2 separate regions of the Homo sapiens genome follow, and region 2 is linked to region 1. Evidence: fine-mapped expression QTL. A gene starts in region 1. The other region holds a variant in brackets. All regions are shown on one strand. Distances are between the middles of the regions.

The links. PIP is the estimated chance that this variant, and not a neighbour inherited with it, causes the effect.
Region 2: its variant is the best candidate, but not a certain one, in a credible set for the expression of CAMK4 in whole blood (INTERVAL, PIP 0.58).

What each region holds. Positions count from the first base shown.
Region 1 is chr5:111,214,762-111,229,370 of GRCh38, forward strand. It overlaps CAMK4 (calcium/calmodulin dependent protein kinase IV), which reads left to right and starts at 9,623. Exons shown (of 11, transcript NM_001744.6): 1 at 9,623-9,883. The coding sequence starts at 9,723. RefSeq lists enhancers at 8,752-8,851, 9,812-9,861 and a silencer at 9,212-9,701.
Region 2 is chr5:111,482,653-111,500,182 of GRCh38, forward strand. It overlaps CAMK4 (calcium/calmodulin dependent protein kinase IV), which reads left to right. Exons shown (of 11, transcript NM_001744.6): 10 at 133-285; 11 at 1,374-12,234. The coding sequence ends at 1,814. STARD4 (StAR related lipid transfer domain containing 4) reads right to left here. Exons shown (of 6, transcript NM_139164.3): 6 at 13,381-17,454. The coding sequence ends at 17,234. Among named protein-coding and RNA genes, the nearest start is that of STARD4-AS1, 21 kb to the right of the region's middle. The variant AGTTT/A (reference allele first, on the strand shown) is at 8,774.

The DNA of each region.
Region 1 (14,609 bases):
TTCTCAGGACTCTCACCCATCCTTTTTTTGTATGCCCAGTAGAGTCCGTCCAGAAAAGACTGCAAGAAGATGTGAACTCCCCCTATGTGTGGGAGTATGTGGCTCCCAGGGGCTCTGCATTCTCCTGTGAACGCACACTCAACACTCCCTGATATGGTTAGTCTTTGTGTCCCCACCCAAATCTCATCTTGAATTATAGTCTTCATATCAAGGGAGAGACAAGGTGGAGGTAATTGATTCATGAGGGGCAGTTCTCCCATGCTGTTCGTGTGATAGTGAGTGAGTTCTCACAAGATCTGATGATTTTTAAAGGGGCTCTGCCACCTTCACTCAGCACTTCTCCTTCCTTCTGCCTTGTGAAGAAGGTGCCTTGCTTCCTCTTTGCCTTCCACCCTGATTGTAAGTTTCCTGAGGCCTCCCCAGCCACGCGCAACTGTGAGTCAATTAAACCTCCTTCCTTTATAAATTACCCAGTCTCAGGCAGTTATTTATAGCAATATGAAAACAAACTGATACACCTCCCCAATTTATTAACTCTTCTAACCAAATTCTAACTGGTCTCTGGCTGTGTTTGTTCCTGGTTAGCAAGTGCCATCTTTCCTCACAGACATCTTTTTCTCCTTAGATTTTAGACTAGTTGGTTTTCCTGTGACTTCACTTCTCTGAAGTTTTCAAGAAAATCTTGACCTTGCATTTTTTGTTGTTTTTGTAAGGGTGGAAAATATTGTTCTTTCCAATTCTCTATATCTTGAGGAGACACTAGAAGTCTTTTAATCATATTTTTAGTTTTCTTCTTATTGATTTCTAAGGGTTTGTATATTCTGGATGCATATTATTTGTCAAATATTTGTATTGAAAGAACTTACTCTCAGCTCGTGGCTTCTGTTTTTACTTTTTTGATTGTGTCTCTTGCTGTACAGAAGTTTCTAAACTTGACAAACGCAATTTTAAAATCTTTTTCTTTTATATTTAGAGCTCATTGTGTCTTGTCTAAGATATTTTTATATACTGTAATTTCCTGGAGATATTCTTTAATGTCTTTTTTAGAAATGCTATGATAGTTTTAGCTTCTGTATAAAAAGTTTATTTTAAATTAAGTTAATCTTTGTGGTATAAGAAAAAGATTGTAGTTCATTTGTTACTATGTGTTTATTTAATTATTTCAGTACCACTTACTGTAAAAACTTACCTTTGCCTATTTAATTGCTTTGATACTTTTTTCAAAATTTAATCGACCACATGTATATGATTCTATTTCTGTACTCTATTCTTTACCATTGACCCCTTTTTTTCTTGTTATACTAATATCACAATGTCTTTATTTCTGTCTGTTTATAGTAAGTTTTAAGGTCAGATAGAGTTCTCCAACTTTGTTCTTCTCAGGACTGTTTTGGTATCCCAGATGTTTTGTATTTCTTTACACATGTTAGCATACATTTTTCATTTTCTACAAACAAAGCCTATTAAGATTAGTCTGCATACCAGTTAGGGAGAGAATTGTTATGTTAATAATACTGAGTCTTCCAGTCAATGAGCATGATATATCTCTCCACTTAGATTTTTTTCAACTTTTATTTTGCATTCAGAGGGTACACGTGCAGGTTTGTTACATGGGTATACTGCGTGATGCTGAGGTTTGAGGCATGGTTGACACCATCATGCAGGTAGTGAGCATAGTACCCAATAGGTAGTTTTTCATCCCATCCACCTCTTCCTCCCTCCCTCTTCTAGTAGTTTCCAGTGTCTGTTGTTCCCACCTTTATGTCCATGTTTACTCAGTGTTTAGCTCCCACTTATAAGTGAGAACACGTGATATTTGGTTTTCTGCTTCTGTGTTAATTCACTTAGGATAATGGCCTCCAACTACATCCATGTTGCTGCAAAGGACGTGATTTTATTATTTTTTATGGCTGTGTAGTATTCCAAGGTGTATATGTACCACATTTTCTTTATCCAGTTCACCATTGATGAGTACCTAGGTTGATTCTGCCTTTGCTATCATGAATAGTGCTGCAATTAACATACAAGTGTAAGTGTCTTTTTGGCAGAACGATTTATTTTTCTTTGAGTATATACCCAGTAATGGGATTGCTGGGCCAAATGGTAGTTCTAAGTTCTTTGAGAAATCTCCAAACTGCTTTCTACAGTGGCTGAACTAATTTGCATTTCCACTAACAATGTATAAGTGTTCCCTTTTCTCTGCGGCTTCACCAGCATCTGTTATTTTTTGACTTTTTAGTAATTGTCATTCTGACTGGTATGAGATTATTTCTCTTTGTAGTTTTGATTTGCAAAAATTTCACTTAGCAATATCTGGTAATTTTAACTGTAGATGATTTGGACATCTTCTGTTGAATTGATTCCTAAGTATTTTATGCTTTTTATTCTATTGTAAATGAAATGGTATTAGTGAATTTTCCTATCATTTCCTATTAGTATTTGTTTTATATTGTGATTGTTTTATATTGACCTTGTATATTGTGACCTTGACAAATTCACTGATCAATTGTAGTAGTCTAAACCAACTTTTAGAATTTTCTATATAATAGTCAAGTCATCGGTACATGACAACAATTTAACTTCTTTCTTTCCAATATTAATAACTTCTAATTTTACCTAAGTTAGAGCACTGGCTGTGCCTTTAATTTTAATTGTTTTTATTAAGATGTAACTTAGGTACAATAAAATTTATCAATTTAAAAAGTATAATTCAGAGTTTTGACAAATGAATAAAATCCTGTAATCACCACCATAACCATGATATAAAACCTTTCCATCACTCCCCAAATCCCTTAGAGTCTTTTGCATTTGATTCCCTCCCACTTTAGCCCTGGAGAACTACTGATCTGCATTCTGTCACTTCAGTTTTGCCTTTCCTTGAATATCATATAGAGGGAATTATTTGTAGTATTTTGTGTTATATATATAACCCTCCTTGGGTTATTTATTTTGTTCAGTGAAAAATCCACCAATAGTTGTATGGCTAGGGGCAAAATAGACATAAACCTATTTCTCAACATTCTGGGAGCGTGTGCCCTCAGGGGTCTCGCTACTTATCGTGCAGAGTTTCACTTAATCTCTCTTTTCAATATGGCCTCAGCTGTATCTTCTGACCTAAAACATATTTCGTTCCTTGTTCAACATTTACAAAATTAAATATATTATCTTCTTCTAGGCTTTGGTAGGAGTGTTTTTTGGCTGTGAATTGTTAGAAGAGGTAATCCAGGAAGCCTAAAAGCTTTAATTTAAAAAAAGAATTTGTTATGAATACATAATATTTGCACTTATTTATGGGATACATGTGATATTTTTATACAAACATACAGTGTGCAGTGATCAAATCAGGGTAACTGGAATATCCATCCCTTCAAGCATTTATCACTTCCTTGTTGTTAGAAACATTCCAATTCCACTCTTAGTTATATTGAAATATGTAATAAGTTACTGTTAACTATAGTTGCCCTATTATGCTACTGAACATTAGATCTTATTCCCTGTATCTAACTGTATTTTTGTGCTCATTAACTATCCCCTATTTATCCCCTCCTTGCTATTACCCTTCCCGTCCTCTGATAGCCATCATTCTACTCTCTATCTCTAAGAGTTCAATATTTTTCTTAGCTTCCACATATGAGTGAGAACATGCAATATTTGTCTTTCTGTGCCTGGCTTATTTCACTTAATGTCCTCCAGTTTCATCTGTGTTGTTGCAAATGACAAGATTTCATTCTTTTTATGGCTGAATAATATTTCCTTGTGTATACATACTACATTTTCTTTATCCATTCATCCACTGATGGATACTCAGGTTGATTCTTTATCATGGCTGCTATAAATATGAGAGTGCAGATGTATCTTTGATATACTGATTTCCTTTCTTTTGGATATATACTTAGCAGTGGGATTGTGGACCACATGTTAGTTCTATTTTTAATTTATTTATTGTTTTGAGGAACCTCCATTCTGTTCTTCACAGTGACTGTACTAATTTATATTCCCACCAACAGTGTACGAGGGTTCCCTTTTCTCCACATTCTCACCAACATTCATTATTGCCTGTCTTTCTGATAAAAGTCATTTATTAGAAAGATTGTATCTCATTAGAAGCTTTGGGTCACTGAGCCTGTTTAATGGTAGGTTTCACTCTAAGGTGATTTTCTGATAAAAGTCATTTATCAGAAAGACAGGGGTGAGATATTTCCTTGTTTTGATTTGCATTTCTTTGATGAATAGAAATTTCTTTATATAGTTGTTGGCTATTTGTATGTTTCTTTTGAGAAATGTCTGTTGAGATCTTTTGCCCATTTTTCAATCTGATTTTTTTTCCTGTAGAGTTGTTTGAGTTTCTTATATATTCTGGTTATTAAACCCTTGTCAGATGGATAGTTCGCAAATATTTTCTCCCATTCTGTGGGTTGTCTCTTCAGTTTTTTTGATTGTTTCCTTTGCTGTGTGCAGAAACTTTAGCTCGATGTGATTCAATTTGTCCATTTTGCTTTGGTTGCCTGTTCTTTTGAGACCTTACTCAAGAAATCTTTCCCAGACCTATGAAATGGAGTGTTTCCCCAATATTCTCTTCTAGTAGTTTCATAGTTTCAGGTATTAGATTGAAGTATTTAATCCACTTTGACTTGATTTTTGTATCGTGAGAGAGAGGGTCTAGATTCAGTCTTCTGCAAATGGACATCCAGTTTTCCAAGCACTATTTATTGAAGAGACTGTCCTTTCCCTAATGTATGTTCTGGGTGCCTTTCTCAAAAATGATTTGACTGTAAATGCATGAATTTATTTCTCGGTGCTTTCTTCTGTCCTACTGGCCTATATATTCGTTTTGATGCCAGTATCATGCTCTTTTGGTTACTTTACCTTTGTATTATAATTTGAAACCAGGTAATATGACACCTCCAGCTTCCCCCTGCCCTGGCCTCCCCTCAGGATTGCTTTGTCTATTTGGCTTCTTTTGTGGTTTTACATAAATTTTAGCATTATTTTTCCTATTTCTGTGAAGAATGTCATTGGCATTTTGATAGACATTGCATTGAATGTGTAGATTGCTTCGGGTGGTGTGGGCATTTTAAAAATATTGTTTCTTCCAATCCATAAACATAAAATATCTTTGCATTTTTTTGTGTCCTCTTCCATTTCTTTCATGAATGTTTTACGGTTTTCATTGTAGACATCTTTCACTTCTTTGGTTAAGTTTATCCGTAGATATTTTGTTTTATTTGTAGCTATTGTAAATGGGATTACTTTTTCATTTTCTATTTCAGAAATGCTACTGTTTTCATATGTTGATTTTGTATCCTGCAACTTTACTGGACTGATCAATTCTAATAGTTTTTTTTTTTTTTTTTTTTTTGGTGGAGTCTTTAGGCTTTTTTAAATATAAGATCACATCATCTGCAAGCAAGGACAATTTGACTTCTTCCTTTCTAATTTGGATGAAGGGGCCTAATAACTTTTTATAAAATTTTTTAACCAATGTTTTGTTCTCTGTTCTATGCCTCACCTTGAGAACTATCTGGTACTCTAACTTCTGAACATGTCTTGATTTTATAGTAGGGATTAGATTTCTTCTTATTGGCTTTTCCCATTGCAAATCTAGGTTTCTGATTTATTAACTCCTCTGTTACTGTTTGTTTACGTGTTCAAGATTCAGTTGACATCACTTCTCTCTTTCTTTTTGTGGGATGATAACCCTGTTCCTTTTCTGGTCATTTCAGTTGAGTTTTGATAAGAAGTAATGGTACATTTTGTATATTTAATTCCTGTTTCATCTATTTTAATATTTATTAATTTTTATCTATGTCTCAAATGAAAGTAAGCTGCATGGATTATACAAAATATCCTGTTTTTAAACTTCAATTAATAGCATTTTTACAAAAGTCAATTATGAAAAGCATAGATGTCAAATGACTAAAATTATGCTGAATATAAAATGAATTCTATAATCACCTCTGTACCATGAAATGGCTTTCTTGCACCATTGTTACCTAAAGTAGCAGGAGAAAAAAGGCTTACCATCTCCTTTAATGTAACATGCTTGCTTTGGGCTTATGTTGTAAAAGAATTGCTAAGAACAGACAAGCATTTACATGCAGTGCTGCTGCTGCTGGACTTGCCTCAAAGAAGTGAGAATAAAAATGGCCTAGCAACTATTTCATGCCCATTTGTCCACTGGTCAGTGCAAGCCAAGGGAAACTTACTGAGTCAAAGCTAGAATTTAGAGAGCTTTATTATCTTGCTTTGCTTGTGAACTTGATTTTTCAACACGATTAGTGAATCTATTCTCTGAAAAGTAACATCACGTGGGCATTTTCAGTCTTTCACCAAACAAGCTAGTATGTAAGTGAATTTGTATGAATTTGCATATACTTGTTATTTGTTAGAGCATTTGTACATTGAGTTTGTGCTCATCATTATAAAATTATCATGAGGAATAGTTTTTGTACAGTCATGTGTCACACAACATTTTGGTCAACAATGGGCTGCATGTGTAACGGTGGTCCCACAAGACTAATAGAGTTGAAAAATTTCTGTCACCTAGTGACATCATAGCCTAATCTTACAGTGTAATACATTACTCATGTGTTTATGGTGATGCCACTGTAAACAAACCTACTGTGCTGCCAGTCATATAAAAGTATAGTGTATACAATTATGTATAGTACATTATACTTTATAATGGTAATAAATGACTATGTTACTAGTTTATACTATGTTACCAGTAAATACTAGTATAGTATTTACTACACTATACATTTTATTGTTATTTTAGAGTTTTCTCCTCTAGCTATAAAAAAAGTTAACTGTAAAACAGCTTCAGGCAGGTCCTTCGGGAGGTATTCCAGAATAAGGCATTGTCATCATAGAAGATGACAGCTCCATGCATGTCATTGCCCCTAAAGCCCTTCCAGCTTTCAGTGGGACAAGATGTGGAGGCGGAAGACATGATATCGATGCCTGTCTCTGTGTAGGCCTAGGCTAGTGTGTGTGTATGTTTTAGTTTTTAACAAAGTTCAAAAAGTTAAAAAAGTTGTTTTAAAAAGAAGAAAGCTTATAGAATAAGGATACATAGAAAACATTTTTGTGCAGCTTTACAATATATTTTGTATAAAATACCTTGTATTTGTGTTTCAGCTAAGCATTACTATAAAGGAGTCAAAAAGTTTTAAAACATTAAAAAGTTTATAAAGTAAAAGTTACAGTAAACTAAGGTTAATTTACCATTGAAGAAAGAAACTATTCTAAATAAATTTAGTGTAGCCTAAGCATACAGTATGTATAAAGTCTAAGTAGTGTAATGTCCTAGGCCTTCATATCCACTCACCACTTACTCACTCACACGGAGCAACTTTTAGTCCTGCAAGCTGCATTCATGGTAAGTGCCCTATACAGGTGTACCATTTTTTACCTTTTATACCATATTTTTATTGTACCTTTCCTATGTTTAGATATGTTTAAATACACAAATACTTATTGTTGTGTTACAGTTGCCTACAGCAGAGTTCCCAACCCCCAGGCCATGGGCTGGTCTGTGGCCTGTTAGGAACTGGGCCACACAGCAGGAGGTGAGCTGCAGGCAAGCAAGCAAAGCTTCATCTATATTTACAGGGGCTCTCCATCTCCCACATTACTGCCTGAACTCTGCCTCCTGTCAGATCAGTGGTAGCATTAGATTCCCGTAAGAGCATGAACCCTATTGTGAACTGCACATGCAAGGGATCTAGGTTGTGCACTCCTTATAAGAATCTACTGCCTGATGATCTATCACTGTCTCCCATCACCCCCAGATAGGACCGTCTAGTTGTAGGAAAACAAGCTCAGGTCTTCCACTGATTCTATATTACGGTGAGTTGTATAATTATTTCACTATGTATTGCAATGTAATAATAATAGAATTAAAGTGCACAATAAATGTAATGCACTTGAATCATCCCAGAACCATCTTCCCCACCCCCTGTCTGTGGAAAAAATTATCTTCCAAGAAACTGGTCCCTGGTGCCGAAAAGGTTGGGGACCGCTGGCCTGTAGTATTCAGTATAGTAAAATGCTGTACAGGTTTGAAGCCTAGGAGCAATTGACTATTCCATCCAGCATAGCTGTGTAGTAAGCTATACTATCTGGTTGTGTACAAGTACACCCTATGATGTTCTTACAACTGCATCGCCTAAGGATGCATCTCTTCAACTTCTCACCGTGGTTGAGGGATGCATGACTATATATATTTTCAATTTCCAATCAGCTAGGAATCACATTCCTGTAACTACTTGATTGGATATTTTTGGTTGTTTGTTCACCAGTATAGCAGGCAGGCTTTTAAGAATAATAAATCCATAAATTAGATTAAAATATTGGACCATATTAATGGTTGGTGCTATCAGGAATGGAGACTTACTAGGAAGAGTTTAGCGCATGTTGGAGGAAACTCAGGAAAAAAAAAAGGCCAAAAGTAACACCTGTGAAGTAAGGTGAAAGCGCCTGGAGCTATTTAGCCAGAAATGAGTTGTGGTATAATAACTGTCATAGATATGTATCAGAACATGACTAATTGTTGTTCGTCTTTGCTGAAATCTGAAAAGAAAAAAGTTCAAGGGTAGTTTAAGTGATGTATGTTTAATACTGAGAAGAAGAGCCATGACAGCTGATGGACAGGACATAAGAATGCTTATCATGGGATACATCTCTTGGGAAGAGAAAAAGGGCTTTTACATGTAGCAGTCTTCCCTGTCATGAATGAGGACAGGTCCTGCCTTAAGGCAGAGGGTTTACTAGTTGGCTTCCACAAGGCCCTTCTAGAACTGTAATTCTGAGCCACTTCAGATGCTGAGATTGAACTCGACACAGCCAAGTATCTCCTCTTTTAGGAGCTCCAGCAGTGCCGAGGAGGCAGTGCCACCAGCAGCGACGACAGCATTTATTCCAACTGAAGACTTCACTCAAAGGTGAGTCAGGTCAGTGTGGACCTGGGCGCTTCCTTTTCCTCCAGCTCTCACTGGGTCCAGGCACAGGAGCCCTGAGGGATCGGCGACCACAGTACTCCCTCCCCGGCCACCAATATAAGCTTTGACAGAGGATGGCTGGTTAGCTGGTGTTAGGTGGGAGGGACTCGCCACGGAGACGCGCTCAAGGAGGGATGAGTTGCGCCACCACCACCTAGGTCCCTCTCTCGCTATCCGGCGGGGCCGCCCGGACCCAGGTGCTGCCAGGGTACGCCTGGCGCCCGCCATCCCAGAGCAGCGTCCCGCTGCGCACGGTCTCCCTCCAGCTCCGGTCCCCGCGGGAGGGCGCGTGGGATGATGCGCGGGTCCTTGTGCCTTCCCCAAGCTCCAGCATCCGGAGCCGCCCTAGCCGGCACCGCGGCAGCCACAGCCTGGGAGAGAGAAAGGAAAGAGGGAGGGCGGCGGGAAAGGCTCGGCGCGGGAGGAGGGCGGGTGAGGAGGGAAGGAGCGAGGGGGAGGGAGCCTCTCTCCTCAGCGGTGCAGCTAGTCTCCCTCCAGCGGGCGGCGACTCCGGGTTCCCCCTCGCGCCCTCTCGCAGAGGCTCGCCCCCTTCCCCGCCCACCGTCCCTGCGAGCGCGGGCGGCGGCGGTGGGCGTGTGCGCGCGTGAAGGACGCCGCCTCTCTCTCGCTCCTGCGTTCGCAGGCGGCGGCTGGCGGCCGGCTTCTCGCTCGGGCAGCGGCGGCGGCGGCGGCGGCGGCTTCCGGAGTCCCGCTGCGAAGATGCTCAAAGTCACGGTGCCCTCCTGCTCCGCCTCGTCCTGCTCTTCGGTCACCGCCAGTGCGGCCCCGGGGACCGCGAGCCTCGTCCCGGATTACTGGATCGACGGCTCCAACAGGGATGCGCTGAGCGATTTCTTCGAGGTGGAGTCGGAGCTGGGACGGTAAGGCGCGGGCTCCGGCTGGGGAAGCCCGCGGCGTGCACTGGGGGTTGTCCCTCTCGCAGCGACGGCTCGGAGGGTGCGGGAGCCTGCCTTCGTGCCCTTCGATTTCTCCCTACCTAGTTAGTGTCTTGAGAGAGAGCTAACCTTCATTCAGGTGCGGCTCGAGTCCTTCCCACCCCACCAGAGCGCCTAGGCCGGTGCAGCTGTAGGATCAGCCCGACTCCCTCCCACCTTCCCTCCTTCTCGCAGGCTGCCACTTCCCTTGGGTGACAGCTCCCACCGCACGTGGGCCCTGCTTTCCCAATTGATATCTTTGCTCACGATTATAGCTTGCCAGAGGGTCCTGTTTGTCTAGTTATTGTTTAGGGTGGGGGCCGGAGGGTGCCCCTCCAAATCAAGACAGAATTATTAAGTTAGATTCCTCCTCCTTCCCCTCGTCAAGCTCTCCAAAGCAAGTGACACGAGAAATTAAACTTAAATACTAGCTTCCCTGCAGAGTCTGCTCAGGAGTGAAGGGAGAAATGAATCATTTAAGAGAGTTGAAGGCAGAATAATGAACTAGTGTGGCTTTAAAGAGAAAGCAGCATATGGGATCCAGGCAGTGGTAATTAGTGAGAATGCTGCTGCTTCCCTTCTTTCATGGGCTGGAGTGATTTATTTAAATTATATATGCAACAGACCATCTCCCTAGGATTGCAGATATGTCCCCTATCCCTCCTCTGAAGATCCAAACAGGTAGCAGTTTGGCCTTCTGCATGATTCCATATGCTTTCGTATTTGTATCCATTGAAAATTATAGTTTTCTTTCCCTTACTTCCTTTTTTTTTGTCTTTTCTCTCTGTTATCCATAGGTAAGGAGATTTATTTTCAACACTTATTTTAGATCCAGGCTCTTTAGTATAGGGAATCTGAAGATGTAATTTCAACGGTTGACAAGTTGCAGCTTCTGTACTTACTACTCCTTTGCAATTTCATTTTTCATTCTCTTTTTGCTGGAAATAGTATTGCTAACAGCCTTTTTATTTTTTCAAGTCATTGGAGGATCCAGAGCAGGATTCTGGATGTTGGTATTTAGTGGGAAGATGTAATGATCACTGCCCACTCTCCCCCCACTTTGCTAGTACTATTGAAGGCTCATTGAATATAGATGTGTAAAATAGGCAAACTTCTGAATGAAAATTCAGTGATTTGTCACTGTTAAAAATGTTTTGAAGTATTTGAGCACTGAATAATGTATACATAAACATCCATTTTTGATCAAGTTTTTCAGTATTCATCTGAAGATCTATTATATATATAGGTGGAAATGAAAGGACAATGATGTCGATTTTTGTAAGGTCCAAAACATGCCTGTTATTAATTGTATGATGCGTGACAGTGGAACCATGTAAACCTCTGAGTAAAGGGATGATCTACTTAAAATTGTTTACTGGGTGTTTTATAAACTACTGTGTAGTAGAGGAAGTGCCTGATGCTGCTGCAGGGACTGTCCCAGTAGCACATCTGTTTTCAGAGTAACATTAACCCTAGATGCCTCAAATAGGCTGACTTATCCACACACGTTGTCTTTATGAATAAGCTTCATCGTCATGAAACTCAAGAAATTCACTTTAATTTGAAAAATGGGAAAAAAATAAACTGCCAATTGTATACCCCTATGAGATGGTAGCCTGCATAGGAAAAAACTGAGAAATTTGAAGTTTGGGTTTTTTATTTTTCAGTTCAGAATTACGTGTTGCAGTAAATTTTGGAGGACAAATATTAATCGGTTATACAGAAGCTTCTCAACTTATGATGGTGTTATGTCCCAATAAGCCCACTGTAGTTGAAAATATCAGAAGTTGAAAATGCATTTACTACACCTGTGCTAACAAACGTTGTAGCTTAGCCTAGCCTACCTGAAACATGCTCAGAACACTTAATATTAGCCTACATTTGGGCAAAATCATCTAACATAAAGCCTATTTTATAATAACTGTTAAATACCGTGTACAGATGGGATTTTGTAGACATGGTGAGATATGAAACACAAAACACAATATTCAAAAAACACTGACAACAGAGAACACTCTAGAGTTCCGGTTGTTTACCCTCCTGTGGTTAACTGGGAGCTGTGGCTAATGGCCGGTGCCCAGCATCAGAGAGAGTATCCTACCATGTATAGTTCAGGAAAAGATCAAAATTTGAAGTACGATTTCTACTGAATGCTATCACTTTCCCACCATCATAAAAGTCGAAAAATTGTAAGTTAAGCCCATCCTATTGGAGACCCTCTGTCTATACATTGCTAAGATTCTCGCTCTATTATCTAGTCTTATGATTACTGTAAAAGATCACAGAGTTAAACTACATTGAGGAACAATAAAAGCTAAAATGTCTTACTTAGGCTCTGTTTGTCAGCAGTAAAGCGTATTGTTAGGTAAGTTTTCTGTACATGGCAGCATTCGTGGGGTGCATGCTTACTCTGGCTGAGACTTTGAGAAGTATCATTTTCATTATCAGAAATTTTTAAGTAAATAAACTTAAAACATCAACTACTATTCTAGATATAATTATTAAGAATCGATAGAGCCAGAGAATGCAACAGAATGATGATCGTAGATATTGGCTGAGTGACTAAAATCTTCTTTCTTCCTACACTAGAGATCAAGTTGAACTCAGGTCATCAGTTTCAAGCCTTTACTCTCAGCTTTGGACCAAATCCACCTGCTAGTGTGACTCTAATTCATTAGTAATGCAGTTGTCATTAATATACTAAGAGAACAGTGCTTCTGGTGTTACGTGTTGCTGTTGTGGTTAGCTCTAGAAAGTAGACAGTCTCCACCAGAATTAGTGATTTGTTGGCTCCTCCATTACAGTTGTCTGTTGTAAAGTAGTGACTCCTGATTGCAAGAAGATTGGACGGTGACCACTGGGGCGATACACCCTGAGGATGTGTTTGGGAACTCAAGGGGAGCTAAACTCCCAAGGCTATATCCACCTGAAGCCCCTGGATAGTGCTGGCGAAGGCAGGTGCTGGCAGCACTGATCCACATGGAGCCATTGAGACCAAGACAGATGTGCTCACTTTCTTTTGGCAGGGAGGGCATAGAGTATAGGGGTTACGGGTGAATTAAAAGTATCAGGCAAAGTAATTTTCCTAAAATCACATTTGAAGACACTGTTTTGTTCATAGAGTTTTTCAAAAAGTTTACAAAAATCATGACACACACACATTCAACTCTACTTAAAAATACGAATTGGCCATGATCCTATTCAGGGCTCCAGATCCTCGAGAGCAGTTGGTCTTTTGCCCAGTGATTTGAGAAACTGGCATTTTAAAGGCTTTTCTGAGGGAGAAGGGAGCTGCCTCTGGTCCAGATCCCGCCCAGTGGTTTGGCACATGGAATGACAGGAAATGGCCCAGCCTGCTTGGTGGTGCAGATTTCGTCTGTGCATGCAAACCCATGTCCTGTTTTCAGTTGTCTCACCTTTAGTTTCTCACTGTTGTTCCATGTTGAAAGAAAAGATGATAAGAAAACCAGATGTATTCCCAGACATACAAATCCAAGGAAACCAAACCAAATGAAAGATAATTAGAACAAGAGAAGAATGTGTTAAACTATTTTGGAACCTTTTTTTTCTTTAAATTTAGTTCCCATTCCACTTACTGTAGTTTCTTTAGGCTAGGCACTTTGCATACTCCTCCCCACTGCAATGTAATTTTAAATAATACATTTATGTGTCACATTTATGTAAACACAATTATGTGTATACATTTATAATTTTAAATACATTTATTTGTCAACTCAATTAAACTAATTATATAGGATCCCTTGCTATATGTATTATTGTTTAGGAACCAAATAGATTTCCATAGTAAGGGGTGTGTGTGTGTGTGTGTGTGTGTGTGTGTGTGTGTGTATAAAACAGAAACAATTTCATAAAACAGTGTTTATTCTTATTACCAGCAATGCACTTTAATATTTTCTATTATATGCTGTTTGATTTCATCTATTTTGTTAAAAAAACTTGGCTGAACCCATGTGATTTCACATCCCACTAATGTGTTGTGATTCAGTTTGAAAAGTGCTGTTGTAGGCCATAAATCTGTGTGTGATAGATTAAGCTATGAGGCAGAGTCTTTTAAAGAAATTCCCTGCAGACCAATTGGCAACATTGGGTGGTATCCTTTTGGCACAGCCCTGTAGAGAAAAAGGCTCCTATCTTTGCCTCCAGGTCATTACTGATTTTTCCCCTTCTAAACATTTTGGAAAAACTCTGGTGTCTCCCTAAGGTCTGCTGGGCACACAGTAATTTGAACTGGCTAAGAGTGCCAGGGGCTGTGTTGGGAAGGAACTCAGAGACTGAGAAGTGGTATATTCTACATGGTAACATGTATTCTGGCTCCAGGTCACAGTGAGCAAATGCTTTCTATAAGGAAACACGAAAGCGTGCATTTTCTAAGAGAAGGGCTTCAGCCAATGTTCTTGGCTTGTCTTAGTGCTCTTGGCTCTGGTTGATATAACAAGATGTCTTAGACTGGGTGGCTTAAACAATAAATATGCATTTCTCACAGCTCTGGAGGCTAGGAAGTCCAAGATCAGGGTCCCAGCCAATGCATTTCCTCAGTTAGGACTCTCTGTTTTGCAGATGGCTGCCTTCTCGCTGTGTCGTCACAAGGCAGAGAGGAAGAGAGAAAGAGAGGGGAAGAGAGAAAGAAACCAAGCTCTCTGGTGCCTCTTCT
Region 2 (17,530 bases), 270 kb after region 1:
AAACAATTTTTTTCTCACATATATTTAGTGGTACTGCTGGGAAATGGAATAAGATCTGGAAGTTTGTAAGCTGAGGGCAAGCCCAGGTCATCCTAAAAACCTCGCTAAGTTTATGGTTCTTTATTATTTCAGGTCAGAAAATTAATTGTTTTGGATCCAAAGAAACGGCTGACTACATTTCAAGCTCTCCAGCATCCGTGGGTCACAGGTAAAGCAGCCAATTTTGTACACATGGATACCGCTCAAAAGAAGCTCCAAGAATTCAATGCCCGGCGTAAGCTTAAGGTAAGATAGCATATATTTTGTTTTGTTTTGTTTTGTTTTCAAAAAATTTATCTCATCTTGATCTATCAATAATAGTTCTACCGTTCTTCATCTAATACTATTATCTATTTCTTAAGGCACCAGGGAAAATCCTGCTTTGAAACTCCAATAAGGCTGACACAAAGCTACTTAAGTTTTCTTATACTCTCATAAGGAATATATGATTAATAAAGGGAAATTTGTTATATAAGTTGATATTTACATATCAAATATATTATTGCTGCTTCTCATCTAATTAAAGTATACTGCTTAAACAGCATTGTTCAGGGAAAACTGATATTTATTCAGAAAGTTGTTTTCTTTCAGAATATGTAAAACTTGGTAAACAATTTTTGAAACTATATTTCCTAATATAGATAAATAATTACTTGACAAAAATTTAAAAATTTAAGTGATATAATAAATTACTTAACTAAATATATCATTTTATATAGTACCTATCGAATAGAGATTAGGAGCTTTTCTATTACATAACTGTGTTTAGGACTAGCTATGTAAGTAGAGGATCTCAGAGAGCAGCTGGGGGTCAGAATTAGGGTCCTATGCAGCCATTGCTTACGGTCTGATACAGACTAAATAAATCTGAAAGGCTCCATGGTCAAATTAATTATAAATACCCCAAATTAAATAGTATTGACTTCACCTAGGATTTCTCCAGCTAGTTTGATCACGGAACTCTTATATCCCCATGATGACATCCATGTGGTAAAAACTACTAACGTCCACAGAACTAGTGTTCCGTAAAACAAATACACCGGGAAACACAGATTAAAATTTTCAAAAATTGGTTAGCCACAGGTAAACACATGTATTCAGGCTTTCAGTTGTCCAGATGATTAAATACACTAATTTGTATTTAATTTGAGATGAAAGAGGTTTTACTGTTCATTCTCCAAATTTTCTTTTGGCAAACAATCTAGGAATAAGGTACTTTGAAAACTTTAACGCTAACCTATAAAACGGAATCCCTAAAAGCAAAGCTGGGGTTGAGCTCTGATGTGGGGTGTTAAAGCAGAGGTAACACTTGACACTCTTCTGTTTCCAATCAGGCAGCGGTGAAGGCTGTGGTGGCCTCTTCGCGCCTGGGAAGTGCCAGCAGCAGCCATGGCAGCATCCAGGAGAGCCACAAGGCTAGCCGAGACCCTTCTCCAATCCAAGATGGCAACGAGGACATGAAAGCTATTCCAGAAGGAGAGAAAATTCAAGGCGATGGGGCCCAAGCCGCAGTTAAGGGGGCACAGGCTGAGCTGATGAAGGTGCAAGCCTTAGAGAAAGTTAAAGGTGCAGATATAAATGCTGAAGAGGCCCCCAAAATGGTGCCCAAGGCAGTGGAGGATGGGATAAAGGTGGCTGACCTGGAACTAGAGGAGGGCCTAGCAGAGGAGAAGCTGAAGACTGTGGAGGAGGCAGCAGCTCCCAGAGAAGGGCAAGGAAGCTCTGCTGTGGGTTTTGAAGTTCCACAGCAAGATGTGATCCTGCCAGAGTACTAAACAGCTTCCTTCAGATCTGGAAGCCAAACACCGGCATTTTATGTACTTTGTCCTTCAGCAAGAAAGGTGTGGAAGCATGATATGTACTATAGTGATTCTGTTTTTGAGGTGCAAAAAACATACATATATACCAGTTGGTAATTCTAACTTCAATGCATGTGACTGCTTTATGAAAATAATAGTGTCTTCTATGGCATGTAATGGATACCTAATACCGATGAGTTAAATCTTGCAAGTTAACACAACGTAACACTTAAAAGCATACATTTTCAGCAACCAGTGGCACATATTTGAAGTGAATAGTAGCAAATTGTTTTTGCTTTGAAAATCTAGCCATCCTACATCCTTTGGATTTCTTCACAAGGCAGTAATTCCTTTGAACTACTGCTTAGCTAATACTAGGTAGTGCTAAAAGACATGTTCCCATAACTTTTACAACATTTTACTTTTTATCATTGATGTGTTCAAACTGTTTACAAGGAGATGCTTATAGATGATAGTTGTACATATGTGCAAAAAAAAATCCACTTGCAATGGTAAGAAATTGAAGTATCCTTAAAGGCCATGAAGCCATATGTCCCTAAAGCCTGTGTGGAGAATGCTTTATTTTATTCTTATTTATATACACTATATTAATAATAACCAAAATGTTCTAAGATTCTGCCATTTTACAACCCTGGAGGAAGTAATTTACAAACTCACGCTGAGTTCCATTCTTTCCTTCACCTGCTCTCCAATAAGATGACTTTCTGATAGACAAAGCTTAGGGTGTAATAAACAGGGAAGAAAAGAAGGTAAGACTGTACTTAAACTGATGAAGATAAGATTGATTCCTTTTCATTTTCCAGATAAAATTGTATTTACTCATGAATTTATACAACTTTACAGATAAGAACATTTTAATGGATAAACTCTATAATTACCAAGTTGCAAATATTTAGAAAATTCTATTTCACAGGTTAGTGCCAAAATGTCTTCATAGAGTAGGAATAATATTCCATTTTAAGATTATTCATTATTGACTTTAATAGAGTAAGAAAACATTATTGTTTATCAAAGCTCTTTTTTTATCCAATTGATGGTTATCTACACATATCACTTATAAACTAAAGTTATTTATGAAAAGCTAGTATGTCTTTTTCTCGTATTTGGAATGAAAGTACCCACATTTTACAATGTAGTGTTGAGAATGTGGCTGCCAATAAATTTAGCACAATGCAATTTATTTACCTTAAAAAACAAACAAAAACAAAAATAAAGAAAAATACTGATTTCAAATCAGACTCTTAAAAAGCTGGAACATTAGACCTGATATTTTATTATGATTTTTCCCAGAATAAGTTTAATTTCTCTTTGACTTTCATAGAAACACTTTCCCCTTATAGAAATTGCACTATCTCCAATTTATTTCTAGTTTGAGTTGAAATGAATATTTTATCAGATTAATTATGTGTCACATTTTTGGTGGGTTTTCTCAATTTTAAAAAAGAATTCATTTTAAAAAATAATTATTTTCAGAGACCAAATAAAGACAATAAAAATGACTATCACATAAAAATCCTTGTTAAAAAAGAGATCTTAAATTATGTTGGCTCTCCCTCAAAACTATTAAATTAGAAAACGAAACTAAAGCTCCAGTTTGTAGAGGCTGTTGGACCTCAGTAGACATTCTTCTTTTCAATCACAAATCTCTCTCTACTACTGTTCTCATGGGAAGAAAACAAGGTAGGACTTCTTATCTTTCATAGTTTAAGAATCTGACAGGTCACTGATATGGAGCCCCTGAAGAAGCACATCATCTGGGCTCAGAAGATTATTTTTTGTTTTGTTTTATTTGTACTATCTAGTAGAGAGCACTTTTCTTATTCCCTCTTTCCTTCCTTCCTCATTTAATTATTCCCTCTCAGAATTCCCATGTTGTCCATTATAAGGGGCTCGCTATTTTTAACCTTTAAGAATGTCTTCTTTGTTAAGCATTAAGATTTCCATTTAAGAGGATCAATTTCCTGTTGTACTTTTTACCATGAGACTGAAACACACACACACACACACACACACACACACACACACACACACGTGTTGGAAGAGCAAAGAGAGGGAAGGGGGTCTTTTTAGAAAGTGGCACTTGGCGCTTAGCTGAAAGATCAGAACACATCATTCCTCCCTGCCCACCCCCATATTGTTCCAAGGGCAGTTGTTACATTATTTCAACACTAGAGTAGGGCGGACTGCATTGTTTGGCCCTGAGAACTATAGAAACAACGTTGCAAATACCATGCCCAATGTGTATTTTAGAATTTACTCATTTAAATGAGTGCATATTACCATTCCTCCATGTGAGTACTCGAGTTGATAATTCCCTCTATCTTTTTAAACCCATAAACTACATTTTTAAAAAAATCAATGGGAGTTTTAAATTTTGACTCATGTTAAAGATAAGATTCTGATAATGACTATATAGTGACTAATTTCATTGTTTCAGTAGGAAACAAATCAAACTTTCAAAAATGTTGGTCATTTCAGTCAAATTATTCAAAGATTTCATATACATACATCCTAAGTTAGGATAATTATGTTAACATTTTTGAAAGAACAGCCAATGTTTATATTGCTTGTTAAAATGGAATGTATTGTCTATCTCAAAGATTACTTAGCTAAATAATAGTAGACAAATGGAGATTTAATTTCACAAAATACTTCATAACATCACTCCTAATTGGCAATATAGTCACAAAGCAAAAGAATTCAAATTTCAGCAAACAATAAATTACATTTTACATTTTAGAGCTAACACTTATCACATTACATTATGGGTTTTTATTTTGAGATAAGTTCAGCTACATAGCATAAACTAGGTTTTTTTTTATAACCATGAAGGACAGTCTTGAATTATTTCCCCCATTAACAAAGTCTAATTGGAATCCAGTATTTTTTCTCAAACTGTAATTTCACTTGTCCCAGGACACATAAATAGGTAAAAATTAGAATAATATCGTGGTAGAAGTTAATTGTCCAGAACAAGTGCATTATATAAATATAATGCAAGCACATGTCATTTAAGATTTTCTATTAGTCACATTTTAAGAAAAATAGATGAAAGTATAGTATTTTTAATCCAATTCATCCAAATTATTCTATCGATATATAGTCAATATTAAAATTTAATGTGATATTTTGAATTCTTTATTTTTATACTGTTTTCAAAATCAAGAGTGTATGTTAGGCCTTTGGGACATCAAGTGCTCAATAGTCACATGTGGCTAGTGGCTACCATATTAGACAGCACTAGTCTAGAGTACTTTTTATTTTAAGCAAAGTGACACTTGAAGTTCTATGCTTAGATTTAAGTGGCCTCAGTTTTCACATTGAGGAGCTGGTGGGAGGCCACAAAGAAAGTGTTTCAGAAATGTTACACACTGAGTAAAAGCTTATTGACCACTCCTGCCCATTCATTTACTTCAGAGGAGAAATGATTCCTAACATGACTTCAAAGAACGGGCATTACTAAATTATCTACTGACCAATCCCTCTGATTCCTGATGGGCCCTGGAGTCTTGACTACAGCCTAGAGTCTCCTGAGTACTGCCATGATGCCAATAGCATTCTTGCTTACCAAAATCTACTCTCAGCCAACTATGTGTCTTCATTCAGGAAGAACTGCACATAGAATCTGATTTTGAGGCCTGGATTAAGCTTCATGCCATCCTTGTATCACAGGCAATATGTCTTTCTGGAAATCTAATGAACCATACCAAATCTGCATGATGAAGATTGTGTAATGATGGTGATATCATGCCAGTTATCCTCAAAGTGGGAATATGACCATTAGCTGGCATTTTTTAAGATTTCCTTAGAAGGGTTTAATCAACACTGCCATTACACATGGATTTAACAAAAGACTTTTGAAAATTTTTTACATACTGATTTTAGAATAATCCTCAAGGTTCTATAGTCATTTTTAGTGGAAGACTTAAAAAGAAAGGAACAATTTTTACTGTGACTTCAATTTCATAGTATTTTAAACATATTTTGTAATTCAGAATGTTTAGCAATCCCTATGTCCTGTTTCACATGCATGGTAACTGATGGTGGGTTGCCTACAGGCTGAAGATTTGGAGAGAGCCATTTTGTTTCATAAATCAGTTTTTATTGCACAGAAGCAGCTGGTTGTATTTCAAGTTGGAAAAAGAAAAGTAAATGCCAGAAAAGGCAAAGGATAAACTTAGTAAGCCATTTATTTTGTTTTAGAATTGTTTTTGCAAAGCAAATTTTTTTAAAAAAAGGTCAACAAAGTGAATCAGCACTAGCATTTTCTTGATGGTTGACTCAATGTATAATTAACAAATATACATAGCAGAGTCAATTAATCATAGTGCCATTATGTCACTTATTTGTCATTGCAAAGTATTCAGTCATGTTGTCTAGATTTACTTTAGATGGTGCAAAATTTCCAGATAGTAACCTATGTAAAAGGATTTGTAATTTCCTTGTAATTCCTGCCTATTAGTCCATATTCTGATTTCCTTATGTTCATCACTGATATGTTCCTGATCAGGGTCATTGCTAGTAGTTGAGCATTTACTGGTTGAACATTGTTTAATGGTTAGATGTTATGTGTGTCTGCATTTAAAAAAATTGTGTACATGTTATTTCACTATTGGTATTACAATATTCATAACCACATGATAAACAGAAATGTACCCAATAATTTCCTATAAAATTTTTCAAAGTCCTTTTATTCCCCTGACACACTCAGGGTGAATTTTTGTCTCCTTGGCAAATAAGAAAAAAAAGGAGAGAGACCACTGGAGAGATATCAGCAAACCACCCACAGTAACCAAGTTCAGTATTTCCTCTTTCTATATTTTGACCAATATATTAAGAGCAAATTTTGTCATTATTACTCCTTGTGGCTATTACCTGAGATCAGATAATATAATCTCAGCTCATAAAGCTTGGCCATGTCTATACTTATCTTGGAGAGCAATAACAAACTTGATTAATTTGTTTGGTTATTTAAAATTCCAACTTTCATAAATGCTCTGTGATGTACTCAAGACGATTGGGTTGTGTGATACTAACTTCCTTCAAGAACTCAGTCTGTTCCCTGTTGTCTGGTTCAGAGGTCCACCAGGGCAAAATAGAAGCCTTGCCGAGAAAGTGAACTGTCTTACTCCTTCAAAGGAATCAGATGTTGCTCTAGAGAAGACTCCAGGCATCTACCTGGTTGAGCTCAAATGAGGCAAGTGGGAGAAAACCTCTTCTCATCCTCTGATTGAAAGTGATACAATTTGAATATTGGTATATTGTCATTGGTCAGTAATGGAAAAATGAGATTCCACCAGTGGGTTACTCTTTTCTTGTCTTGGTTTGCTATGCCTTATCCCAGATCAGTGTTTTGTTCCATCCCTATGGTCATCTCTAAAGCCCTGACAGGAGCATCCCAGACTGGAGAAATGCAGCGTATCTGTGGCCCAGAATTTTGTTTGATACTCTAAACAGCAATGCAAAGACTGCAAAATCACACTATTCTAAACAGTTGTTTTCAGCTCATTTTGAAGATTGACCTGGAAAACATATAGATACAGAATATATACATTTAATCGTTGCTTGTGATTCATTGTGTCAAAATAACATTTAATTTTCACTCTGATTAATCTTTATTTTCCATTTAAAAGATTATTTCAGGCTACTTAAATACAAGACCTTGCATTCTAATTTTTGAAAGCGGTTGTTTTCCCTGAGCTCTCTCTCAACTTTGACAGTTTGTGAATGATAAAAAGTTACTAGGTTTGTCCTTTCCTTGATAGATGTAGAGCAGTTCATCTGTTTTGTAAAGGTACAGTTAAGCATAACTATAGGCTGGGCGTGATAGTTCATGCCTGTAATCCCAACACTTTGGGAGGCCGAGGTTGGCAGATCACCTGAGGTCAGGAGTTTGAGACCAGCCTGGCCAACGTGGTGAAACCCCTAATACAAAAATTAGCTGGGCATGGTGGCACGCTCCTGTAATCTCAGCTACTCAGGAGGCTGAGGCAGGAGAATCTCTTGAACCCGGGAGGCAGAGGTTGCAGTGAGCCAAGATCATGCCACTGCACTCCAGCCTGGACAACAAGAGCGAAACTCCGTCAAAAAAAAATATATATATATGACCATAAATTGAAAACTATCATCTCATACTGCCTCCTTTTAACCTGACCTATTTTATATACCTACAATACAGTTAATATGCAGCAGCGTAGAGAACAAATAGCATATTCATAATTTGTAATTTTGTTTTTCTTTTTACGGCACCCTTAAGTCTCAGTAATATTTTAAAAGTCCTCTATAAGCCAAAAGAACGTTGTAACATATCCATTTATTAAGGAGTTAGGCCTAAACATAGTAATAGTAGTCCATTCCATGTCCAACAGATGTTGCTGTGTTTCTTTCAACATTTTTCAATGTCTTGTGAGTTTAGTGAGTGGGTACAGCTGAGTTGGGGTTTAGGTGATTTCTTATGCCCAATGAACTAAAGGTATCAGTAAAAGATTATTAGTAAACAAATTAGTTATTTATGCTCTTACTTGAATGTCAGTCATTCATTTTATCTCTCGTCTTTGAGATACACACATTAAAACTTATGTGCATATTTTTTTAAAGAGTAATTTCCACATAATTCCCCAAGAACTGAACTCAAATCTCCAAAAATTTTTCAGAACTCAAGCAACCAATGATTCACAGAGCAAATCTACCAAAGCCCCATTTTTATTGGAACACAGGCATGCTCATTTATGTACATATTGTTTGTGGCTGCTTTTATGTTGTCAAGGCAGAGTTGAGTACTTTCAACAGAGACCATATGGACTGCAAAGCCTAAAATGTGTATCTGGACCCTTACAGTAAAACAATGACCCTGGGTTTTCATGGCACCCCAATGCCTTTTTGGTGACTTGCAGGAATACAGATTCCTATATTCC[AGTTT/A]GTTTTTTTTTTTTTCTCCTTAGCTTAAGGTTCGTATTCCCATTTGCTTCTGAGAAAGTTAGGAAAATTTTGTTTTATGTTGCAGATGCTCTCACAACAATAATTGTGCTGGAGATAGATACAACTTAGTGAAATTTTCCTACAGAACTAAAAACGCAAAATTGCATCACTCCTGAAGAAAAGAAATTTAGAGTATGAATTGAGTTGGTTGAGAGTAGAATTAAAAAGATTTCTAGCACTTTGAGCATGTTTTAGAAATTTGATCCTTACATTTAAAATTATGTAAATGACATCTTTCACTGGCATTTGCTCACATTTAAGTCAATCTACAGCTGTTACTTACTAAGCTAAGAAATAAGAAGATCCCTATGGTTCTGAATCTCTCATAATATTCTGAAGTAATTTATATCAATTGAATTTTCATTAATCATTTTAGGAAATATTATGTTTTATTTTGTGGCATTATATGACAATGACTTTCTCAACAATAGCTCAGGGAATACGCAAACAGCCAGCTCTTTTATGTAAGAAAGCCATTTTCTAATCCCCACGCTTTCCTGAGTGTTACGTATTTTATTTCTTTGAAAAGAGAGGGCCTTGAGTAAATGCTTTCGTTTGCTTTCCTTACATATTTAGAAATCCAAGAAGGGCCCTTGTCTTAGTCTATTTCTGTCACAGAGAAATTGTTCATTCCAAAATATCCACCTTAAGGGAAGCTAGTGACCGAGATATGGAGAAAAACATAGGCATTCATGACCTTTGTGTTTCCGTTTGACTTTCAACATCTGTAACCAAAAGGTCACAAATGAAATATTTAGTAGAAAGTGCAATATCAATTTATTAGGAGTACCTAAAATTATAACTCTAAATAATATACAGCAATATTATTGCTCTATTATTACAGCAATCAATAATATAATATAGCCACTAGGATACACTCGCTGTAGAACTCAGAACAAAAGATATCAATCTTCTGCCAGTCCGCATCATTATGTGTAGCAGAGACTTTACTGGAATGAGTGAGGGGAAAGATAACAAAATGTAGATTAGGATTCCACATTCTCCCCTGCCCATCTTCTTGATTGCTCAGTTTGAAGACGATCATTGATGGACAAATACTTTAGAAATGAATGAAGTCAATAGCTAATGTTTCTCCCAGAAACTAAACAACATAGTTTAGGGGATATTAGGCCTACATTCTAATCACATTGTAAGGAAGTGATTTTCTAATTTTGAAGCTTCCCAGGAGCAGCCCCCTCCAGGAACAATTTTCCCTGTGAACTTTCACTGAGAAACTATTATATGCCATGGAGGAGTCAAAGATGAATTAAATCCAATGCTATCCTCCAGGAGTGAGCTTTGTAGTTGGAGAGAAAAGCCAACCTTATAGATACAACCTGTACATATATAACCTATGCTGCATTTAGGCAGATGATAAGCCCTAGGAATGGAAAGAGGGAAAAGCTCCCTTTTGCCAGGAATGATGAAGGAAAGCTTTATGGAAACACAGGCTGTATGTGAAAGATGGGTGAATCTTTGCAGGTAGGGAAGAAGTAGGGGGCATGTCTGGCTGAGAACCGGCCTGATCATAGAGTGGAAAAATGAAAGGCAGAGGTGAAGGAAGAATACTAAATGTGAAAGGCTGAAATACACAGGGAAGTGTTGCCAGTGTGCAACAGAATCTCATCTCGTGCAAAATTGAATTAGACTTCCTTACTCCTTCCTTACTCTGGGTAGGTCCATGTGCAGCCTTTCCTCAGAGCATCTAGCCTGACATACTTGGCTCATCTGCTGTGCTTCTAAGCCAAATAAAAATCATCAAACACATCGAAGATATTTTTGGGAGTCACCAGGTTAAAGCAAAGCCTCAGTCACTGAAAGCAAAAACTGAATTGGCCAGGTCTCCACTGACAAAACAGAGTAAATGATAGTATGACAGATAATTTCAAGTTTTCCAAGACTCCAATTTCTGAAAAATGTCTCATGACTCCAAAAAATCACGTACTTCCTAAAATGTTGCCAGTGGAGGACCGAATCAAGGTTATTGCTGACCTCATTTTTTCAACCTTTTCAGTTATTTGACCTGAATAGGCAATCCCCCAGGATTTCTGATTGAATTCTACCTGAAAGTTTAGATTTTAAAAGACAACCTGTAGGAAGCTAAGTCTCAGGCAACAAAATTTAAAACCATCAGAACTTGTTTCTCCAAACATCAACCTGCTCCTGTCAAGTCCTTTTTCATCTCTCCCTTTTGTCCCTTTACATACTGTTTTGTAAGTTCCTTTTGATATCATTTATTGCAGGCAGTATTTTTACATCCATCTTCAAGAAACTTGGGAGACATTTAGACATTTAGTATGTGTACTTTTAGTTGTCTTGCCTCTTTATTTCAGATAATGCCTGTGATTAGTGAATGGCGGCATTATTCCTGAAGACAAATGAAGGAAGATAGGGAGCAAGATTGACTGTCATTTGAATGATGGAAGAGAAGTAGAATTACTGTGAGGTTACAAAAATCGTAAGTTAGCAGACATTGAGAAAGGAAAACTTCCTACTTGGGCTTTTCAGGCTTATGTGACATTATCTGGATGTGTTTTCTAGTCTTTCCTAAAGGAGAAATTTTTATTCCTGGGTTGCTGAAAGCTTTCTGGACTAAAAGGATATAAGCAGCTCAATAGCAGCATAGAGGATTAGATTAATGGAACAGCACTGCATACAGGAAAGCTACATCTCCAATAGTTTAGGCTGCAAGTCAGTAGCCAAACACAAGAGCATGTAAGATTTGGAGGACAAAGTATAAATATTTTAAGTTTACACAACCAAGATTATAGGCTACCTTCCCAACTTCTAATTTGAAGAGCACTGAAAATGGAGCTGTGAACACTTCATTTTTAAAACCTGACAATATGGTGCTATTGACTACTTAATACAAAGATATATTACAATATTTTTAGGTAAATGTATTAAGTCTGGCCTGGGCATAAATGTACATACAGAAAATGTTTGTAGAGAATTCATCAAAATCATGCCCATTTGCTGTTGTAGAGCTACAGTATTCTTCAATGGTGGTGACTGACCAGTGAGTTTCTACTTCTTACAGATGGGACACAACAGTCATGGGCTGTCTCAGCTGCCCAAAGCCTGAGGCAGACCACATGAGAGCTGTGGCTTCTTCTTGGATTCAGGTTGGATAACCCAATTCAGTAATTAAATATGTAAATTTTGGGGGGGGTTGGGGGGTGTTTTCTAGGAACTTGAAGAGTACGTGACATTATAAAAAATGGGTGTTGGAAGACTAATTGTAGAAATTTGACCTGAGGGCCAATGTTACTTGGTGTAAGTTCACTCAGACAGACATGTCAGAACATGCCCAAAGAAGCCTATATCTTGCTGCTGGGAAATGTAAAGCAGTTGGCATGTAGAATACGATAATAAATCATTTAAGAAACCACCAAAACTTTGCATTCTGTGATTTCAAATGTTACCACAATTCAAGAGAGACACCATGGACATTTTTCTTACACCTGAAATGTGCAGTTGAATCACTCCTTGAGTGTTTTCCCATTCTCTCAGATAAAATTATACTTTGAGTTTCATAGCCTTTTTTTTAACACTGAGTGCTCACATATTTTCTGTTGAGTAAAATTATAAAATCACTAGAGTTAAAAGAGGATATTAGTAATCATTTAATCCAATAAGCTCACTTTATTAAAGAGAGCTATTATGCCCAAGAGAGGTAATGGCTTACCTAAGGTCACAGTGGCTGAAGAAGGAATAGACCAGGGTTGCCCAGCTCCTAGTCCAGTGCTCTCACTACCATTCAGGCTGCTATAATAAAATACCATAAACTGGGTGGCTTATCACAATTTATTTCTGACATTTCTGGCACAAGTCCAAGAACAGTCCTGCAGGTTTGGTATCTATGAGTGCCTGCTTCCTCACAGAGGATGCCTTCTTGCTGTGTCCTCATATGGCAGAAGGACCAAAGCATCTCACTTGGGCCTCTTCTATAAAGGTACTAATCACATTCATTAGGGTTACCTAATCAACTCTCAAAGCTTTTAAAACCATTATCTTAGAGGTTAGGATTTTAACATCTGCGTTTTAGGGGAACACAAATATTCAAACCATAGTACCAGATGTTTTATTAAATGAGGAAAGTAACTCCCTGCTTCACAGTCATATTTTCTATTACATACTTACCACAGCATCCCTAACTGCCTTCTTATAACATAGATCGTGGGTGTCCTTGTAATCACTTTTAGTTTTTTTCAATTCCAAACAAAATATCATAATTCCTAATCAAGGTAACACAATTATTTCAACATGTGTACAATAAATCCTGTCCATAATTTACAAAGGCACAATATATTATTTGTTCTGAATATATAATAGCAAATAAAGTTTCAGCAGTATTGTATAACAGCTAATATTATATGAGACACTGGCAGGAGAGATCAGCATGTGTGTTGTTAATTTGACTTTCCAGGTTTATATTTTCCTTTTGTAAGAATTCAGGAAGTTAAATTACATACTTTAAATTCAGGCATATGAAACTAAATAGTACTTAATGTTAAATTACAAAGATAATATCAATGACCAATTTTAAGAGTGTCTACAAATTTTTATTTTGTTTCATACCAATTTAAAAATAAATACATATTTTATTGATACTAATACATATTATTAGTTTAATAAATATTCTAGTTTTACATATTGGTTCACAAAAGAATTATATAAACTTCTTAAAAATAAAATCTATACTATAGCTTTTATTGAACTGCAAGAGATGAATTTTAATATTTAACTATACATGTAAAATCCGTAAAAACAATACAATAATTTAAAAATTATAGTTCCAACTTCCTGTTTTTTGAAATTATTCTGATGTTTCTTCTACACTCAAGTCCCAACCTTCTCTACTTCTAGAAGTTGAATAAGAAAGACATGGAAGATACAGCAGGCAGGCAACACAGGTTCTAGGGGAAACCTGATCAAGCCCTTAGCTTCTCTAGTTCTGTTGATTTCTCTACAGGGTAGGGATCACTACAGTCCCATTTAATTAAAAGAAACTGGATTTAAAACACCTGATTCTAAGGACGGTGGTACACTCTTGAGAAAAGAGTTAAAGCTTTTATTTGTATGAAAGGCAATTACTCAGCCCTAAAAGCTCAACAGACAATTAAGGGCTTAAATTATACAATGTTTTCCCATCTTCTCCAGATACAACCTCAATTACATAGTTTTTTAGCTTGAGATATTAATTGAATTCAGCATGATTGTTGATAAAATGCCCTTTGGTTAGAAAAGGAGGAGGAGAGAGAAGGGAGGGGAAGGAAAAAAATTCTATTAACTAGGAGATGTTGTACAGATAGAAATCTACAATTTCAAATATATCCAACCTGAATGAACACTGAAATAAAAAGATTTTTAAGATTTACAAGCTCCCTAGTACTTTAGCAATTTATCTTATAGATTAGTTAACTACAGAATACTAGATTCTCATTATTTTTTTTTGAGTACTGTTTTAAACTTTAAGGGTTAACTAAGAGTTATCAACACAAACTAATATTTCATGCAAAAGTATCACTTTTATAATAATCTTTTTCTTGTATGAAACTAATTTCCTTAAAAAATAGCTACTATATACTGAAAACAGTATTATGCCAAATATTTCCCACATACACAAGTTTCTAATACGTACTACCTACAAGCTACAGAATAGTCAACCATTTAACAAGAAGGCAGATTATATTCTTTCATTTCACCAACTGCCATATCAAAAGTTACTTATCTTTGAAGGAAAATATTTGCTGGCAATAATTTTATCTCATTGACAACTGATTTATATCTAAAGTTTAGATGTCCTATTTATCAAGCAATGAAGGCTCTAGAGACTAACAAAGATTTCCATTTAAGATATTATTCCGTATTATTGTCTATTTCATCTTACTACAAGACAAATTAATAAATATGCTATAGGACTGTGCTATTCAATACAGTATCCACTGGCCTCATGTGGCTAATGAGCACTTAAAATGTGGCTTGCCCAAATTTGTAAAATGCATACCAGATTTCAAAAAATTAGTACAAGAAATAGTACAAACTATCAGAATAAATCTTTACATCAATTACATGTTAAAATGATAACATTTTGGATGTATTGAGTTAAATAAAATATTAAAATTAACTTCAGCTGTTTATTTTTATTTTTTAATGTGGCTTCTAGAATTTTTTAATTACATATATCACTTACATTATTGTTCTATCCTACAGCATTGCTATAGAAGCAGCGGACTCAATTATTTATGTTAATATCCATCCCAACCCACATCATTAAGCTTTTTTATCATTATAGTATGAGATAACATATTTAATACATGATCACAAGATTCCTGAGCTTAGAATCATGAACACCTCCACTCTTAAAAATGAAACCAAACATAACCTGCTGTAATTATCCTGGCAACAGTGATAAACTTTAGATTTGTGTTAGGTATGAGTCTGCAAAAAAGACAAAAGGAATCTTTTGGAATGATGGAAACGTTCTAAATCCAGATTGTGCTGATGGCTGCATAGTTCTACATATGTATTAAAACATCACTGAATTAGATACTTAAAAGTGGGTAAATTACATAATATGTAAATTATATATCAATAAAGCTGTTTTTGTTTTTTTAAAGTACACAGCTAGAGCCCAGCAGATCTAAGGGGCCATCTAGAAGCTGCACATACATTTTAGGTGATTCAAACATAATTTTTAAATTCATCATTCTCACAGTGAAAATGTTTCCATGAGGGTAATTTTACCTAGAGTGGGTCCATGTTTAACGGTGAATTATGTAATTACTTATTGGAGGTATATGTTGATAAGGACAAAGAGAGCACTAGAGTAGAGATAGTGGGCAGTTTATTTGCTTTTAGGGACATCCAGTTCAGGAAATAATAGCCCTTATAGTAATGTGTACTATCTTGTCACAAATCCCTTACTCAAGTTAGGCACCTTTGGAATTTCACCATCCTAGATAGAACAGTAGAATATGAGACTTCCTACTCTACGCTAATAAAAACAAATAAAAAATAGATGAAGTCAAAACTAACATTTACCAATTTCCATGAGAAACTGAAACTAAACTACTGAGTTTTCTTTCACTATTGCAGAACAAAAAAAAAGAAGAAACCTAGTAATTCAAAAGTACATTCAATTTAGAAAAGGATCCTGGTAATTAATAAATCATTAAGAATATAGAATCCTTTGTGCATTCCTTCTGTCAGATCTTGATCAATCTAGATACTATGAGATAATTCACCATGAACATTGTGCTGCTGCCACCTTTTGTTTTTTGAAATCTATCATCACCAGTGGCAAAAAATAAATAAAAACAAAAGCAAAAAACAGCTCCACTGTTCCACTTTGTCAAAATGGGTATGAAGAACTTTGATTTATTCTTTCTTTACACTCAAGAAAACACAATAAAGTAAAACACAGATCAAACTACCATGCACTTGAAACACTATGTACCTTTCTGCATTTCATGTCTTGTTTAGCATGTATTTCAGGGCTCACTTTACCCATATTAACAACAACAAAACAGTAGACACAGGAATACTAACACATAAACAACTAACATTAAACACGGAAATGGATTTCGAGATGTGTGCATGTACACAAAAAAATATATACAAAGATTTGCCTGGATACCTGAATTGCCTCAAGTTCCCATTTTAGAAGTAAACTAGATGGAGAGTTCAAAACCCAAAGTCATTTAGAATGTGAAAATCATTTAGAAATTCTCACTTAAGGCACCCACAGAATTAGGGGACCCACAATACTCAATTCTAATCATTATAAAATGATATCTAGGCACTTGGGTAAATCTAAGACTGTATTTGTTCTAGTTACAGACTGATGCTTTTAAGAGTCTCAAGATAAGTCTTGGACACCAACTGAATTCCACATTTTAAATTGGGGCCAGGCATGGTGGCTCACGCTTATAATCCCAACACTTTGGGAGGCTAAGGTGGGGAATGACTTGAGGCCAGGAGTTCAAGACCAGCCTGGGCAACACAGTGTGACCACATCTCTACAAAAAATTAAACAAAAATTAGCCATGCATAGTGGCGTGCACCTGTATTCCCAGCTATTCAGGAGGCTGAGGTAGAATAACCCCTTGAGCGGTCAGATCAAAGCTGCAGTGAGCTGTGATCATACCACTGCCCTCCAGCATGGGCAACAGAGTGAGAGCCTGTCTCAAAATTTAAAAAAAAAAAAGTGAAAATGCCCTCTCTTAGATAGCTATTTACTTTAGGAATAAAACCAAACATTGTACTAGTGAACCAAAAACATTTCAAATTTTTCTACCGGCTATGCAGAAAAGTGGAATCAATGATTTTTACAGGCCATGTAGCTGAGAGAGTTGATCTGTAGTACTACAAGTTTGAATGTATTTTGCCTCTCATAAAGCTTTTCGTAAATCACCATAGAAGTTGGTTAAAGTGCTTGCCATGGCTGTATCTACCGCAGACTGAGGAATCATCCCACGCAGATCTGTCTGAATATATCCTGTCAAAAGACTCTGGTTTGGGTTGTCTTTAAGTGGAACACAAAACCAACCACAGGGATGGTTATATCCTCGAACAAATTCTGGTCTCTTTTCATCCCAGTCAAGACTTATTCCTATAAGGCAATTTTTAAAATAGCACTATTAATAGCAATAACTGACATAAAACTCTCATTTTAAAATATTACCAGA